2 linked regions of the Homo sapiens genome follow. The protein of the gene in region 1 purifies or fractionates together with the protein of each later gene. This does not show direct contact. Each region holds a gene or a part of one and is shown on either strand. Other genes may lie near its edges.

What was found. Proteins that work in one complex are often made in the same cells at the same time.
Region 2: the proteins of DNAJC1 (region 1) and DCAF8 purify together in Homo sapiens (affinity purification with mass spectrometry, with the first as the bait; one large-scale study listed by BioGRID). This does not show direct contact.

The regions. Positions count from the first base shown.
Region 1 is NC_000010.11:21,916,675-21,920,331, reverse strand, and holds part of DNAJC1 (dnaJ homolog subfamily C member 1 precursor), read left to right. Parts: intron 1-402; coding exon 403-500; intron 501-1,459; coding exon 1,460-1,553; intron 1,554-3,657. UniProt on the Homo sapiens protein: May modulate protein synthesis.
Region 2 is NC_000001.11:160,252,497-160,256,153, reverse strand, and holds part of DCAF8 (DDB1- and CUL4-associated factor 8), read left to right. Parts: intron 1-3,657. UniProt on the Homo sapiens protein: May function as a substrate receptor for CUL4-DDB1 E3 ubiquitin-protein ligase complex.

The DNA.
Region 1 (3,657 bases):
TCTATAGTTTATTCTTTGGGTTTTTATTTATATGTTAAAGATAATCAAACATATTTATCAGTATTCATGAATTAGCATCTGTTTACTCATTCCTTTTGAAGTGACATTATTAAAGTTGGATGAATGAGAAAAAGTGAGTTGAATGCTTTCTCTTCTTAGAAAACTTTGATTGCTATGGAGATGCACATGACTGACAGTCCTGAACTTCATGTGTGTTTAAGGCCTGGATACCATGGCAACAGTTATTGTGAAAGATTGATGATTTTACTTAATCATGTTGGACCCTACATACATTTGCATAAATGTTCCTCTATAATGTTTACCCTTCACAGAAGAGCCTAGATAACATTTGAAGTGTACATGTTAATGATAACCTGTAACCATAATTCTTTCCACATTAAGGATGAACTACTAAGTAGAAAAAAGAGAGAAAAGAAAAAAAAGACTGGCAGCAAGAGTGTGGATGTATCAAAACTCGGTGCTTCAGAAAAAAATGAAAGGTGAGAGCATATAAAAATACTTTATAATTTGAAGCTGTTTTAAAATACATCTTTAATATGATTCAACTTCATATGTATGTCTATTTACATGTGCTCTCATTTATATCTGTGGTAGTCTTATAAAAGACTAATAATGTGCCATTGTTTATGAGACAAGTTCTAATCTTAAGCAAAATGTCTTCAGGTTTTTTCCCCCATATAAAGTGTGACTATATATTTAAATAATCCCTCAAATTCTTCTAGTTTGAAATTTTTATACTGAACTTTAGAAACAAAGTACTATTAGACGGACCTATCACTTAGCTCAGGAGTGACAGTATGTAGAGAGGCAGTGATATGCAGTACACTCAAAAAGATACCACCATTTCTTCTATTGATTCATAGAAAGGAATAAAGGGTTTAAATAGTTCACACAGCAGGGCATGAACTGGGATCAATGTGGGATGGAGATCAGAGACTATTCTGCCTGTCATCTATTCTGATGACATCAGTGAGTAATGCTTCAGTGAACTGCAAATGACATTAATTTTTATGTATTGGTTTGTTTATGCTACAGTCTTCATATCTGGTTGTCAGCACTTGGGAACACTCTGATGATGGTTAGTTTTTTATAGCTGAAGTAATCATAAGGCTTAAGAATTCGTTGTACAAAAGTGATGAAAAGCCCAGGTTAGAAAGAAGGCTTTTGTTTATCTTTGTAACTTGATTAGGAGCCTCCTTCCCCAAAATCTTAGCCTAGATTCTCTTACATGCTATATATATTGCATTTGTTGTGACTACTGTATTTCATGATGGAGTAAGTCAGTTATAAATATTTCAGTGCATACTTTCTTCATTTTTTTTGTTGAAGTAGCCATTCACAAAAGAATTCATGATCTTTATAGAATTATTTTGCCTCCCAACTTTCTCTGTATATTCCTCATATGTTGTATGGTGTTCTTTTTTCTCCCTCCCTTTAGATTGCTGATGAAACCACAGTGGCATGATTTGCTTCCATGCAAACTGGGGATTTGGTTTTGCCTTACACTAAAAGCATTACCTCACCTCATCCAGGTAAAATGTACCTCTTTTATATAACATTAGATCTTTTATTTTTAATCACTCATGAAATAATTTATGCCCATGTCGGCTCTCTGAATGCTGATATGCAGTGGATGCTTTATAATGTTGATTGAGTAGGATTTTTATAAGTTAAACCTAATTTAGATAATTCTAAGATAATTTAGATATGTTTCTGTAATTATCTTTTATAATGGTTTTAGATCACCTTAGAGTCCCAAGATGCTAGAAAAAGAAAAAAACATACTATCTTTAGTACAGAGATAAAAGCAATAAAAATTTAATCCACTGTTATCATTAAAAGCATAACCAGTAAAAAGGAACAGTATTCAAGTAGCTTGCCACCCATTATTTTAATAGCATTTAAGTACATAGTGTTAAAAAAAAAAAAAAAAAACTTTACATGAACATCTGTATAATTGTACCAAAATATATATTGCTTTCCATTTTATTTGCAAATTTAAGAGGAGTGAGGACATTTTGTCTTATACAGGTAATGAGTTTCTGTTTCTATTTAGTCTTGATTAAATAATAAAATGTGGATATGTATCATATTTAGATGTCAGTTTCTTTTATTTTTTTACATTTAGTATACCAAAGCATATTTTATTAAATTATTGCTTTGTTAATTTTGATTTTTGCATCAGGTTTGAAAATCCCCAACACATAAATATTTGAAAGTAAATAAAACACTTTTTGGTGTACAGATTTTGAGGTTGAGATTGTAATTTTTTGGAGAGAAATGTTTTATTTTAGAAAATAAGTGTTTATAATCTAGAGGACCAGATAATATTCTAATTCAGTTCTACCCACTTTGTAGTTATATATTAGAGCTATTTTTCCTGATTTTTTAAGGAAGCTAATGACTACAACTTCTGCATTTTCCTTTATTTTTCTCATAATGAAAATTTTATATTTAAAGGGGATATTGAACCAAAATACTAGTGTGCTTCTTTTTATCCTTTGAGAAATTACCAGTTCTTCCATCAAAATAGTTCATCTTAATAGTTATTGCTTATAGAATCTTATATTTTGTTTACAGTTAATAGAGAAAAATTACAGTATTTTGGTAATTTAAAAGGTTTGTTTTTAAGTTGTTTAGTGTGTTATATTGTTTGCTTGAAAAAATACTCTGCAATGTTTGTATGCTGTCTGTAAGACTTAATGAGGGAGGGAAAGTCTTTATCACACTGGTATGTTTATGAGAAAATGAGGCAGAAAATATTTTTAGGGCAGATTTTCTTATTTTTTGAAGTCTGATTATTTTTTGCCAACTTTAGAATCCGTGCAATAGGCAAACCAGAATATAGATGAGTTAAAAAGTATATTCATGAGGCAGTATAAATAGAATATTACATAAGATATCAATATTAAACACTTCTTTGTAATTTTAATCTAATTTGAAATAAAATTTATTTGGTAAAATTAACATATTTCTTGTTTAGCATGCAGGGTAATTTGCCAGACTAGAACCAACATATTGTTATGGCTTAGATTTATAATTTACTTTAAAATACTTGCCTGTGATAGCTGTTAATTCATGTAATAGATTGATTGTTTTGCCTCATCATAAATTTGTAGAAAATATACAAAAATGAGGAATTTTACAGAAACTTTTTAGTTTCTTTAGAAACTCTGCTTTTTTTAACTGATCACTTTGAATTTTAAAGTTTTTACTTACTTGATGGTATCTGCTGGCCTTTCGGTTTTGAGATGCTAGGCATTAGGGTTCCAAGACCTTTTAAATCTAATTTTTAAATTTTATTCTAATTATTTCTTCTTGATAAATGGATTTCAAGAAGAAAATTAAGATGATTTTCCTTTTTAAAGGAAATATTTGATATTTTTATTCTGCTGTGGGGACCTTAGATTAGTGTTTCTAGTGGTCACTAACAAAATAATGTAATGCAGTAGACTCTTTCAAATATATATTATAATACTTTAGAAAGTACTTTAGATTGATTGCTTATGAAATACATTAGCAAAACAATACTGTTCAGTTGCTCTCAGGATTAGATTTTTGTCGCTTTTTGTTTTGTAGTATGTGATGACCTTTGTATTAATTTTAGATCTTCTTAAATACGATATTTATGAAATT
Region 2 (3,657 bases), on another chromosome or scaffold:
TAGCCAGGTGCAGTGGCATGTACCTGTAATCCCAACTACTCGGGGGGCTGAGTTGGGAGGACTGCTTGAGCCCAGGAGTTTCAGGCTGGCAACATAGCAAGACCTTGTCTCTTAAAAAAAAAAAAAAAAAAAAAAAAAAAAGTTTGCTTAGTTCTGCTGCTGGAAATTAACACTTAAGGGTTAGAGTGCATTCCTGACATAGTCTGAAATACTGTTATTAGAATTAAAGCCAGAGGCCATGCACGGTGGCTTACATCTGTAATCCCAGCATTTTGGGAGGCTGAGACGGGCGGATCACCTGAGGTCAGGAGTTTGAGACCAGCCTAGCCAACATAGCAAAACCCTGTGTCTACTAAAAATATAAAAATTAGCCAGCTGCAGTGGCATGCACCTGTAGTCCCAGCTACTTGGGAGGCTGAGGCGGGAGAATTGCTTGAACCCAGAAGGCAGAGGTTGCAGTGACCCAATATCACACCAGTGTACTCCAGCCTGGGTGACAGAGTGAGACCCTGTCTCAAAAAAATAAAAATAAAAAAACAATAATTAAAGCCAGTAAACTATAAACACTGGGCATTTTATGTTACCAATAGGGAGAGAAGGCATTAATTCAAAGAAGGAACAAAGTTCCTTATTCATAGTTTGAATCCTCATCATTATCCATGGTGATTGCTTTGCAGTCTTCCATCTTGGGTATCCTCAGAACCTTCAAGAGGGAGAAGAGGCCAGGTGTGGTGGTACATACCTATAATCCCAGCACTTTGGGAGGCCAAGGTAGGAGGATTACTTGAGCTCAGGAGTTTGAGACCACGCGGCAAGATAGTGAGACTCCGTCTCTACGATAATAATAGTAAAAAAATCTATTTTAAAAATTAAAAGAGGGAGAAAAACTTAGGGAGGCTTATATTGTGGGTTCCTGGGTAGATTGTCTTACTGCAGTTCGTAGAACATGAATACTTGAAAGAAGATATTAACGGAGCTCTCTGAATTCTTTAAAACGCCAGAAAGGGTAAGCAGATTTCATAGACTTGGGACTGTGTCCTATATTATATACGATGTTTGGAGAATCATTGCTGAGTGGTAAAGAGGTCCAGGATTTTCTAGGAAATGTAGTCTGGTATAGAGATGGGAAACTAGAAAAATAATATAAATGGCTACTATGTACAAACAGGCTCTTAGCATACATTATTTTTAATCCTCTAAATTCCTGCAGGGTGGTAATATTATCCCATTTTACAAAAGAAAAACTCAAAAGCAGGTGGTAGAGGTAGAATTCAAACCCAGGTCTGTTTGACACCAAAGCCCTTTTCTTTCTTTCATAACACATGCTGTCTTTAAAAATAGGACTTTTCTTTTTTCTTTTTTTTTTAGATGGAGTCTTGCTTTGTCGCCAGGCTGTAGTGCAGTGGCATGACTTGGCTCACTGAAACCTTCCCCTCTCGGGTTCAAGCAGTCCTCCTGCCTCAGCCTCCGAGTAGCTAAGACTACAGGCGCATGCCACCATGCCCAGCTAATTTTTGTATTTTTAGTAGAAATGGGGTTTTACCATGTTGGCCAAGATGGTCTTGATCTCTTGACCTCGTGATCCACCCGGCCCGGCCTCCTAAAGTGTGGGGATTACAGGCGTGAGCCATGGTACCTGGCCAAAAAAAAAACCAGGGCTTTTCAAAGCCAAGAGATGAAGCTGAAAGGTAGAATTAAATATTTCTTATAAACATATGTATATAAATTATTCAAATGACAGTAGGAATACAAACTTTTTTTATTGTTTAGACATAGTTATGCTATATTGGTAAGCTAATGAGTTTTTAAGAAAACAATTTTTTTTTTTTTTTGAGACAGAGTTTCGTTCTTTGGCCCAGGTTGGAGTGCAGTGGCACAATCTTGGCTCATTGCAACCTCTGCCTTCCAGTTTCATGCGATTCTTCTGCCTCAGTCTCCCCAGTAGCTGGGATTACAGGCATGCACCACCATACCTAGCTTATTTTTGTATTTTTAGTAGAGACGGAGCTTCACCATGTTGGCCAGGCTGGTCTCAAACTCCTGACCTCATGATCCGCCTGCCTCGGCCTCCCAAAGTGTTGGGATTACAGGCATGAGCCACGCACCCATCCCAGGAAATAATTTTTATAGATTTAAGAGATAGCTGAATCCTAGTGTTTTATGATTCTTTACTGGAGAGAAAATCAGCATTCCATTCAATCTCTGAGATAATTCCAGGGGAAAAGCTGTTCTGACTCTTACAGCCTTTTGACAGTATACTGTTCTCTGTATTTTTTTGGAAGCATGGACTATCCTCCTTACCTTCTTGGTTTTTTTGTTTGTTTTTCTGAGACAGGGACTTGCTCTGTCACCCAGGCTGGAGTGCAGTGACCCCATCACAGTTCACTGCAATCTCGACCTCTGGGACTCCAGTGATCCTCCCACTTCAGCCTCCCAAGTAGCTGGGACTACAGGTGTACACCACCACACCCTGCTATTTTTTTTTTTTTTTTTTTTTTTTTTTTTTGAGATGGAGTCTCACCCTGTCGCACAGGCTGGAGTGCAATGGTGCGATCTCGGCTCACTGCAACCTTTGCCTCCCAGGTTCAAGTGATTCTCCTGCCTCAGCCTCCTGAGTAGCTGGAATCACAGGCGTATGCCACCGCGTGTGGCTAATTTTTGTATTTTTAGTAGAGACAGGGTTTCACCATGTTGGCCAGGCTTGTCTCAAACTCCTGACCTCAGGTGATCCACCCGCCTCAGCCTCCCAAAGTGCTGGGATTACCAGCGTCACTTAGACGTCAGCCACTGTGCGCAGCCTAATTTTTAAATTTTTTCTAGAGACAGGGTCTCCTGATGTTGCCCAGGTTGGTCTCAAATTCCTGGACTCAAGCGATCCTCCAGCCTCAGCCTCCCAAAGTGCTGGGATTACAGGCATGAGTCACTGCGCCCAGCCTATCCTCACCTTGAAACCTTTTTATTCTTGACTTCCAGAGGTTTAATTTTGATTATTCGTTCTTCTCAATTTTTCTCTCTGCTCTCCTTTCTCTTCTCTAAGGGTAGGTATTCCTCAAGATTCTTCCCTTGAACATCCTCTCCCAGAGCCTTCTTAGGTAACTAATTGTTTGTTTTAGTGAGATATGATTTACAAGGTGTTTGATTTTGAAGTTTCTCTGTACAGATAATTCACAAGTCTGTATCTCTGGCCTTACTTTATTTAAGTTCCAAACTTAAATTTGTTCGTCAGTACCTTCCTAACATGTCGGCTTGGATTTTAAATTTATTCAGAATAATTTCTCATCCCACCTGCCAGCTTCTCATTTGTGTCACTTGATTTTCTCTGGGCGCCAGACTAAGAACTTGTCCTTCTTAACTCAGCTTTGTAACTGCTTATTGAGCTAAACATTATCTACCTTTACAACGATTCTCATGTTGATCCCTTTTTAATTCCTTTTGCCATCAACCCAAGACAGCCCCTCATTACTTCTTATCTTGGCAACTATAATAGCTTTTAAACTTGTTTCTCTTTCCTTTTCCTTCATTTCAGTCCATCTTATTATCTTTGACAAAATAATTTCTCTGATGCCTGACTGCCTGCCCCCCAACAACAAAGCTTTTATTATACTTCTTAACTAATCAACTATACCTTACCATCTAGCCAAAGTAGACTACCCATAT